Regions from separate parts of the Homo sapiens genome. Here region 1 is linked to region 2. Evidence: fine-mapped expression QTL. A gene starts in region 2. The other region holds a variant in brackets. All regions are shown on one strand. Distances are between the middles of the regions. Region 1 overlaps LOC107986129 (a long non-coding RNA gene). Region 2 holds the start of MCM2 (minichromosome maintenance complex component 2).

What was found. PIP is the estimated chance that this variant, and not a neighbour inherited with it, causes the effect. A credible set is the group of variants that fine-mapping cannot tell apart.
Region 1: its variant is the best candidate, but not a certain one, in a credible set for the expression of MCM2 in subcutaneous fat (TwinsUK, PIP 0.56).

What each region holds. Positions count from the first base shown.
Region 1 is chr3:127,850,426-127,855,800 of GRCh38, forward strand. It overlaps LOC107986129 (a long non-coding RNA gene), which reads right to left. Exons shown (of 5, transcript XR_001740896.2): 4 at 3,644-3,810. The region is part of intron 1 of LOC105374096 (a long non-coding RNA gene); the gene reads left to right. Among named protein-coding and RNA genes, the nearest start is that of MGLL, 31 kb to the left of the region's middle. The variant A/T (reference allele first, on the strand shown) is at 2,949.
Region 2 is chr3:127,595,586-127,600,960 of GRCh38, forward strand. It overlaps MCM2 (minichromosome maintenance complex component 2), which reads left to right and starts at 2,826. Exons shown (of 16, transcript NM_004526.4): 1 at 2,826-2,887; 2 at 3,733-3,962. The coding sequence starts at 2,882. It also overlaps a transcript of TPRA1 not described here. RefSeq lists enhancers at 2,504-3,461, 2,815-2,934 and a silencer at 2,965-3,124.

The sequences.
Region 1 (5,375 bases), 250 kb after region 2:
ACTGCACTCAAGCCTGGGTGGCAGAGCGAGATTCCATCTCCAAAAAAAAAAAAAAGAGAAAGCCCAACAGATATTTGCTTTTCTTCTATTTTGACTGTCAGTTACTATGTGCACAGCACTTGGATAGAAACTACAATGCAAGAAAGGATTTAAAAGCCTGGTTTCTTGCAAAGAGGGAGGGCTCTTTGCATCTCTACCTCTACTGATACCTTAATGAAGTGATCAATCCTATTTCTTTTTTTTTTTTTTTTTTGAGACGGAGTCTTGGTCTGTCGCCCAGGCTGGAGTACATTGGCGTGATCTCAGCTCACTGCAACCTCCGCCTCCCAGGTTCAAGTGATTCTCTTGCCTCAGCCTCCTGACTAGATAGGATTACAGACGTGTGCCACCCCACCCGACTAATTTTTGTATTTTTAGTAAAGACAGGGTTTCACTATATTGGCCGGGCTGGTCTCGAACTCCTGACCTCAAGTGATCTGCCTGCCTCGGCCTCCCAAAGTGCTGGGATTACAGGTGTGAGCCAACGTGCCCAGCCAGAGCAATCCTAATTTGGGCAATAAAGGAGCAAAGAGGCATCATGTCCCACCTGTTGAGTTACACTGGGGGCAGAGGATCACTTCTCTGGTATTCTTTTCAAGAACCCAAATTTAATCACAAATAAGCTTCAGGAAAACTCAAATCCAGGACATTCTGGAAATCAACTAGCCTGGGCTCTAAAAATATTAATGTCACAAAACACATACACAGGTGCACATAAATGAAGGGGAACTATTCTAGCTTAAAGGAGATGAAGAAGCACAGCAAATGAAAGCCATCTTTGATTAGGTTATTGATCAAATAAATCTGTAAAGAATGCTGTTGGTACAATTGGGGAAATTTGAATATAAACTATATATTAAGCAATGCTGTGTATCAATAATGTTAAATTTGCTGAGTTTTGTGCAGGAGAATATCTCTTAAGAAATACATGTTGATGTATTTACAGGTAGAATATGATGACTGAAATTTAATTTCAAATGATGTTTTAAAATGTATATGTGTGTATGTGTGTGTATATGAAGAGAGAAAATTCTAAAACAAAATGTGATAGAATGTTAACAGTTGGTGAATTGACAGGTTATATCGTTTTTCATTGTATTATTCTTTTAACATTTGGGGTGTATTTGAAGTTTGTTAAAATAAAAGTTGTAGGAGAAAAAGATGATATGATGAAGGGAAAGAGTTTGAGTTTTCTGTAAGACGGTTAACTAGAGGCTATATATTCAAGAGGGCCTCTGGTCTGGCTGACCTATTGCTTCTTCCAGGACAGTGTAGAAAATAAAACATTTAGTTGCATATCCACATTTAAAAAAGAAAAAAGCAAGGGTCCCTTGCTCACTCAGGCCCAGGACTGTGGATGGGCCTTGGATGAAGCCAGGTGAAAAAGGGCTGTCAGCTTCACCCGCCCTTAGAGACAGCATCAGCTTTATCACTGGTGACAACGTGCAAAGGAAAGTTCAAAAGCTGAGGCAGAAAAGTAAGGGGGCAGCTGTCTTATAAAATACAGTAATACAAATACAGACACACAGCAGCCATAGAGCTGCTGATGACCAGGCTGGGCCTGCCGGCAGATGCTCGAGATTCACAGGTGGGCCTCGGGCTGCTCGAGGAGGGAGGAGCCGGCAGAGCCAAGGAACACAGAGGCCTCACAGGGGGTTAATCACTCCCTCCACCTGCCATATGGCCAGGGAAATCATCCACTCTCACGGAGCTGGATGGGAGCGGAAGCTGCTCCTGAACTTAATCAGAGGAGGGCTTTTGATTTCAGCATTAAACCGAAGGTGCTGGTAACATGGACTTGCCTGACCTGGTGACAGTGAGCCAACATGACCCAGAAGAGGACTCCGTTAAATATGTATATTAAGAGAACACAGATAAAAGCTTCCTGCTTTTATCTGGAGGACAGTGGGTGGTCAAAGAATTTTTCATTAAAAATATTTTTTTAGAATTTCCAGAATGTGACATATGTCCTAAGGGCAGTGCAGTGGAAACAGTTTCCCTAGATTCAAGGATGAGGAGGCATTGACAATGGAGACATTTTATATATATATATGTAAACATACACACACATATATACTCACATTATGTATGTATTTCACATTTATATATAGAATAAATGTATACTTAAGAAAATATATAAAATCAATATGTAATAAAACATGCTACATTTTCAGTGTGTATGTGCACACTTTGAGTTAGCGCATGTTTATTACTTACCTTTTAATCAAGAATGCATGCTAATGGAAGTTAATTCAGAGAACTCCCAGTTACAAGGTTGGCCCCCAGTGCTGGCAGATTCAGCTACATACATTCCTTGTAAGTGTGGAATCACGTAAGCACTCTCTGAACTCCTATTTCCAACCTGTCAATGGTCTGCACACAACACGTTCCTGCTTTTAAGCAGTAGATTCAAAATAAACAATGCTAACAGTGATTCTGCAGGGGAAGAAACAGAACTTGAATTACTTCAGTTCTGTTATTCTTTTATAGGTAACTTGAAGTTTTTATTTCTGTTTAAAATTTTTATTTATTTATTTATTTATTTGAGCTGGAGTCTCACTCTGTCACCCAGGCTGGAGTGCAGTGGTGCGATCTCAGCTCATTGCAACCTCTGCCTCCCCGGTTCAAGCGATTCTTCTCCTCAGCCTCCCAAGTAGCTGGGACTACAGATATGTGCCACCACGCCTGGCTAATTTTTGTATTTTTCATAGAGACGGGGTTTCACCATGTTGGCCAGGCTAGTCTCAAACTCCTGGCCTCAGGTGATCCGCCCAGCTATTTCTGTTTAAAATGTAAAACAATGAAACAGTGTGTGAACTGCAGTAAAATAATCCCCTTTAAAAATTATGATTAAAAAAATTAATCCATGACTTTTTACCTTTTTTTAACATATGTGCCAGCATGATTAC[A/T]TATACAAAGTTCAATAAAAAAATTTTCACTATCTACAGCAGTTCTTTTCTGGACATTATTATTATTCCTTTTGTTTAATGATCATTATTGAAAAGAATTCTGTTGTATGGAGGAAGGAAGCATTAAAAACCAATTCTTGACCAGGGGCAGTGGCTCATGCCAGTAATCCCCGCACTTTGGAAGGCCGAGGCAGGCGGTCCTGAAGTCGGTAGTTTCAGACCAGCCTGATCAACATAGAGAAACCCCATCTTTACTAAAAGTAGAAAATCAGCCAGGTGTGGTGGTGGGTTCCTGTAATCCCACCTACTCGGGTGGCTGAGGCAGGAGAATCACTTGAACCCGGGAGGTAGAGGTTGTGGTGAGCCGAGATCGAGCCACTGCACTCCGGCTTGGGCAACAAGAGCGAAACTCAGTGTCAAAAAGAGAAACAAAAAACAAAAACAAACCAACTGTCTGTAAGTGAATCACATGGTAGGTCCGCCAGGTGGAGACAGCAGATTGAGCAGTCTAGTCTGCTCCTTCCATGGCCCCTCGCTGGTGATGATAGAAGACTTGCTTTAAAGGAGAGGAAGCACGGCAGCACAGTCCTGGAAGCTGGAACGCAGAGGGAGCATGGAAATGACACACCTGGCAGCCCCAGGAAGACCAAGCCCTGAGCTGGCAATGGAGAAAGATGAAGCTCAGCCAGACTTACCCCACAGAATCCCCGGAAAGCCCAGGACTTCAAGGCACTCGATGTCTCTGGCAGTAGAGGTGACAAGGATGGTGACCTGGAGGCTGCAGGAAGGTTTGTTTAAGGAGAGGTCCAACACTCAGGCCCGCTCCCCACTCTGCATTTTTGGTGATTGTTCTTCTCCCAACCTAGCAGAAGACGAGAGATTTATTTTGGGGAGAGGATAAAAAGTGAGTCTTTTGCACCGGGAGCAGCAGCAGCACAGCTGAGGTCAGCGTTGTCATCCCAACACATCTAAGTAAAAGATTATATGTATTTTGGATGCTGAAGTCTCTAGCCATCTTTCCTAATCAGTTTTTGGACGTTTTCACCCTGAGGCCACAAACTGGAGGATCTTTCTGGATGGAATTTGAGGGATAGCACAGGGACTACCCCAGTGAGATGACCCAGCACAGCACGCTCCTGCCAAGCTCCAGGTTGGCAGGCCAGTCACGCCTGCAGTTTCCAATACGTGTGTTAGTATCCCACTCCTGGGTGTGTGGAGACGATGAGAGGAAAATCTCTAACACGAAAGGTGGGACTAGAATGGAGACGGATGTGGCCCAGGATATAGACAAACAGAGAATGGCAATTTGGAGAAGAGCTTTTCACAGGAAGCATTTTTTTTTTTAGAAAAGTCATTAATATCCCCAGGAAGATAAAAAAAGATATTGCAACCATGAAACACAGCAGAATGTAATAGAAATAAACATCAAGAGAACCAAAAAGAATTCTTGGGAATTAAAATCATGATTGCTGGAATGAAAAGCTCAAAAGAAGCTTTAGAAGATAAAAGGGCAGAAGGTAGACAGAAAGAGAAAGAGTTGGAAAATAAAGGAGAAAAGTTCAGAACCTGAAAGGACTGGTCCATGAGTCTCAGTATCCAAATAATAAGAGTTTCAGAAAAAGAGAACAGAGGAAGCCCAAAGATGGATGGGGACAGAGGGGGAGGAATCTGGCAACTAGAAGATGAGTGTCCACATTGAAAGGGCCCACCAAGTGCCCCACCAAGGCACATCATCATGCAACCTTAGGACGCTGGAGACAGACGCCCCACAAGAATGCGGAGACAGAGAAAGAGAAGATCAAGAACCAGAATGACAGAATGCATTTGTGTTCATTTCCCATTGCTGCTATTAAAAAAGAACTACACATTTTGTGGCTTAAAACAACGTGAGTTTATAAATTCTGGAGGTCAGAAATCCAAAATGAGTTTCACAAGGCTAAAAATCCAGGTGTTGGCTGTTCAGTGCCCCTTTCTGGAGGATCCAGGGGAAAATCTGTTTCTTGCCTTTTCTAGCTTCTACTGGCCACCAGCATTGGTTGGCTCATGGCCCCTCCCTCCATCTTCAGAGCCAGCAGGTTAACATTGTCATGTCTCTCTCCCTCTCCCCACCCTAGCCCTGGCTTCCATCCTCACACCTCCTTCTCTGACCCTCCTGCTTCTCTTATTAGGATCCTTGTGATCACATTGGGCTACCCAGATAGTCCAGAATAATCTCCCAATTCTGAAATCCTTAACTTAGTCCCATTTGCTAAGTCTCTTTTGTCATGTAAAGTAACATGATCACAGGTTCCAGAGATTATGACATAGGTATCTGTCTTAGTGACAAAGGAATACCTGAGCTGGGAAACTGGTAAAGGAAAGAGGTATATTTGGCTCATGGTTCTGCATTCTGCACAGGAAGCACGGTGCCAGCATCTGCTCCTGGGG
Region 2 (5,375 bases):
TTGACTGCTCTCTTCAGTGGCCTTTGGGAGGGCTCCTGATAATCCCCAGCCCTGCTAGGATCTCCTCTCCTTCAGTGTGGGCCGGACCTCAGGACTCACTTCTCGCTAAGAGAATATGGCAAAAGTAAAGGAATATCACTTCCAAGACATGGCATCTGTCTTGTATGGCCTCTCTCTCTTGTTCGCTTGCTCTGAAAGAAACCAGCTGCCAGGTTGTAAGCTGCTCTGTAGAGAGGCCCCCACCCAAGAGCCAGTGGGAAACTAAGTCTTCAGTCCAACAGCCTATGAGGACCTGAATCCTATCATGTGAAGAAGCTTGGAAGGGGATCCTCCTGAAGATGAGCCTTCAGAGGAGACAGCAGCCCTGGCCAATACCTTGCCTGCAGCCTTGAAAGACCTTGAAGAAGAGGCACCCAGTGGCATCGTGTCCAGATCCCTGATCCACAGACACCGAGACAGTGGGTGCTAATTGCTTCAAGGTGCTAAATCCCAGGATAATTTTTTTTTTTTTGAGATAGAGTTTCGCTCTTTTTGCCCAGGCTGGAGTGCAATGGCACAATTTCGGCTCACCGCAACCTCCACCTCCAGTGTTCAAGTGATTCTCCTGCCTCAGCCTCCTGAGTAGTTGGGATTACAGGCATGCGCCACTACGCCTGGCTAATTTTGGATTTTTAATAGAGACAGGGTTTCTCCATGTTGGTCAGGCTGGTCTTGAACTCCTGACCTCAGGTGATCCACCTGCCTCAGCCTCCCAAAGTGCTGGGATTACAGGTGTGAGCCACCATGCCTGGCCATCCCAGGATAATTTTTTATGCAGCAATAGATAACACAAGCCCATGCAGAGTCTCTTCAGCTTTCCTGTCAGCAGCTCCTAGCATCCGAGGTGCATCCTTCACATCCTTTGTTGGTGTCTCTTAACTGTTGGGGTTTCCCAGGTCCCAGGCTTAGACCTTCTCATCTCCCTGCACTCACTCTGGATTATACAACCACTCCCAAGGCAATCTACAGCTTCAGTCCAAACACGCCCTTGAGTCCCATACATGGATATCCAACAGCTTCCTGGATATGTCCCCTCGGCCCAAATTCAGCACAGCCAGAAACAAACTCATCTTCTTCCCCCTTAAATTGCTGGTCTTCCTGTGCGCTCCTATCTCAGCTATCATCCACCTAGCTAAGCCAGGATCCTGGTGTCATCCTGCATGCCTCTTTTGCTGTCCTCAATCACCAACACCTATAGACCCCACTTCCTGGCCGGGCGTGGTGGCTCACGCCTGTAATCCTAGCACTATGGGAGGCCAAGGCAGGCGGATCCACTTGTCAGGAGTTGGAGACCAGCCTAGCTAACAATGGTGAAATCCCATCTCTACTAAAAATACAAAAATTAACCGGGCACAATGGCGTGCATCTCTAATCCCAGCTACTCGGGAGGCTAAGGCACGAGAATCGCTTGAACTTGGGAGGTGGAGGTTGCAGTGAGCTGAGGTTGCACCACTGCACTCCAGCCTGGGTGACAGAGTGACTCTGTCTCAAAAAAAAAAAAAAGATTCCACCTCCTAAACATCTTGTATTTCCAGTTCTCTCCATCACTCCTGCCTCCCTACCCTGGGTCCCAGGCAGAGATGCTTGTTCACTGCACAAAGTGCCTGGCTAAGAGGGTTGCGATTCAGCCCTGCCTCTGCTCACTAAGGCTGCCTGGAACTAGACAAGAACCACAGCAACCTCCTCGTTTGCTGCCTTCAACCTCGTTCAATCCACTTCCACCTGGTAGCAGCCAGAGGGATTCTAAAACCCACACTAGTTCACGTCTCACCCTGCTCAAAATGCTTCCATGGCCTTCCATTGCTTTCAGAATACAGAATAGTCAAACTCTCTAGAAAAACATCTAGCTCTTTTTTGATCCGGATTTTCTCTCCCTCAAGTCTTGTCTGTTGCCCGGCATCATAAGCTCCTAGGGTTAGTTCTTAGGGAGGGGCTTGCACATCCGGGCCCTGCCATGACCTCTGCAGCTTTGCACATGGCATCCTTCTATCTGTAACATCCTCCCTGCGTCTTCGCTCCCCTGGGCAAAGATAACTCCTACTAAAGCCTCAGATGTGACCTCCTACAAAATCCCAGAGTTGTCCAGCTGCTTGAAGTATTGAGCCTTTGAGCTTTGGGAGAAGTTAAACCATTGTGCTCCTAAGACGGTAAGAAGCGTCAGAAAACCAGGCTCTGAACCTCTGCTGTCTTTTTTTTTTTTTGAGACGGAGTCTCACTCTGTCACCCAGGCTGGAGTGCAGTGGCGGGATCTCGGCTCACCGCAACCTCCACCTCCCAGGTTCAAGCGATTCTTCTGCCTCAGCCTCCCGAGTAGCTGGGATTACAGGCCCGTGCCACCATGCCCAACTAATTTTTGTATTTTTAGTAAAGACTGGGTTTCACCATGTTAGTCAGGCTGGTCTCGAACTCCTGAGCTTGTGATCCGCCCACCTCGGCTTCCCAAAGTGCTGGGATTACAGGCGTGAGCCACCGCGCCCGGCCTCTGTTGTCTTGTCAGCAAAATGGCCCTGGTGTGACCGAGGTCACGCAGCCAGCAAGTGTCGTCGGGTCCCCTGGAGCCTCAGCTTCTACCTCCGCTCCAGCTCCCACCACAGCGCAGGCGAGCGCACGCGCACAGCGCCGGGCCGCACACCTCCGGGCTCTGGGCGGAGCGCCTCGGGCGTTGTAGGCGGGACCGGACCCTCTGGCCCGCCCCTCCGTGTCCCTTCTGGTCGCCAGTGGACGCCGACGTCATGACGTCGCGTTCCGTAGGGCTCTTCCCGGGCTTTGGTGGGTCACGTGAACCACTTTTCGCGCGAAACCTGGTTGTTGCTGTAGTGGCGGAGAGGATCGTGGTACTGCTATGGCGGTGAGCGCGCTGGCGCGTGGCGGGCGGGCGCCGGGGACATGGGTGCGGAGGCTGCGCGCTTCCCGTACTCTGGCCCCGGCCCAGGGCGGCGCTCTGGGTGAGGCTGGGCCCCAGGCTCTGGGGCGCAGCTACTTTCTCGCCTGCACCCTGCGTGAGGCGACTCGCCTACCTACCACTGACCTGGGGCCCTGGGCTCCCTAAGGCGAGCTCGGCCCGTTCAGCCTCTGTCCTTTATTCACCCCACACATACTTATTGGGCGCCATCTGTGTGGCGCTGAGCGTACAAAAGACAGGCCCCCATTTCACTACACTCCTTTAAACTTTTTTTTTTTTTAATTTCCCAATGATCCTTGTTCCAAACACTACACTTACTTTTGTATTACCTTCTTGTCCCTTTGTCTTGTATACTGTCTGTTCCACATCTGAGTTCCAGACCTCTTGTTTTGGTGGCTCTTCTATGCCATCTCTATCACAATACCTTGCGCACTGTGTGTGCTGAAATAGGTCTAATGCTTAAGGGGAGATAATAGACAGTAAACAGGTAAATAGGCAAATGACATAACCTCAGTGGTTTTTCATGGAGAAAGCACGGTGATGTGGGTGACCCCGATATTTGAGCTGGCTTCTATTTGTTTGGAAGCCACTGACTCAGATTGCTCAGCTGAGAGCATTCCAGGTGAGAGAACAGCAAGGGCAAAGATCTGGAGGCTGGAAGGGGTTTGGTGTGTTGGAGGACAAGAGTCACAGGTGGAGAGAAAGAAGGGAAGGCCCCTGATGGTAAAAAGGAAGCTGTATCATGCCTCACCAGCTTCCTAGGTTTCTGACAACCGCACCTTCTCTTGCAGGAATCATCGGAATCCTTCACCATGGCATCCAGCCCGGCCCAGCGTCGGCGAGGCAATGATCCTCTCACCTCCAGCCCTGGCCGAAGCTCCCGGCGTACTGATGCCCTCACCTCCAGCCCTGGCCGTGACCTTCCACCATTTGAGGATGAGTCCGAGGGGCTCCTAGGCACAGAGGGGCCCCTGGAGGAAGAAGAGGATGGAGAGGAGCTCATTGGAGATGGCATGGAAAGGTAATTTCATTCAAGGCCCTGGACTCAGCAGATAGTTTTGCAGAGAGCCCATTGTGTGCCTGGTGGCCTGGCTTTGGGAGCTGGGAGCAGATGAATCGATGGCATTCTTGCCTTTGAGCACAGCTTGATCCAGGGTTCTGAGGAGACAGGTTTACAGAGCCATGACACAGGTCTCTTTAACTTACTGCATGTAACTTGGAAAGACTAGACCCTAAGCTGAGGATAAGCCCCGACTCCATAAGCACCCCAGAGAATGTAGGGGTCTCTAATCTGGAATACTCCAACTCAAAAAGACAGGAAGCAGGAAGCCCAGTGTTTCCCAGTAACTTTTCAAAGGAAAGGTGCATGGGGGAGGAGGGATCTGATAAATAAAGTTTTAGAGTCAATCAGCAAACATTTATTGTACCTAATGTGCACCATGCCCTTTGTTAGGAATGGTCTTGTTTATTAGTAAACATGTGGTGGCTCACACCTGTAATCCCAGCACTTTGGGAGGCCGAGGTGGGCGGATCACCTGAGGTCAGGAGTTTGAAACCAGCCTGGTCAACAGGGTGAAACCCCGTCTCTGCTAAAAATACAAAAAATTAGCTGTGCATGGTGGTGCGTGCTTGTAGTCCCAGCTACTTGGGAGGCTAAGGCAGGAGAATCACTTCAACCCAGGAGGCATAGGTTGCAGTGAGCTGAGATCACACCACTGCACTCCAGCCTGGGCGAAAAGAGTGAAACTCTGTTTCAAAAATAAATAAATAAATAAGTTAGCAAGACTTAATGCTAGGAGAGTGGAGTAAGCTCTGCGCATAAGCAAGGCTAGATTTCTACCCCTGCCTTACTCTGCATTTCCAGCTGCGATCTGGTAGATAACGTCAGTAGCGGAATTGTGTGAATGCCCAGGAGCCTCGTGGAGATGCTCCTTTTGTGCCTTTTCAGCCTTAGCATGTGTGAGAGTACTGTGCAGGGCATCCTGCCGTCCCTAGGATGTCAGACAGTTGAGAGGCTTTCAAGGGCACTCCAGACTGGATGCATCTTTGCTATTATCAGTACCACCCCCAACGATGAGACTGCATGTGCTGTAGGCTGTAGAAGGAATGAGGAGTCTGGATAAATCTGCCCTGGACTTGGGGTCAGGGCATGGGTCCTAGACGGCTTTCCTGTTCTGCCTGATGGAGTTGTTCAGGCCGGATGCCCCTCCTCTGCTGTTTCCCCTCCCTGTCTTGACCCTTTCTCTTTGCTTCTCTGAGAAGCAAAGAGAGAGGCCCTTGGCAGGGGGCTTCTGGGTAGAGGTATCTGAGGGATGGCTGAGCCCAATTACATTTGTTTTTGTGGTTTTTCAAAAAAAAAAAAAAAAACTTTATTGGGCTATAGTTTTTTAGAGTTTACCCCTTGCGAAAATATAATTCAATGCAAATTCATGGT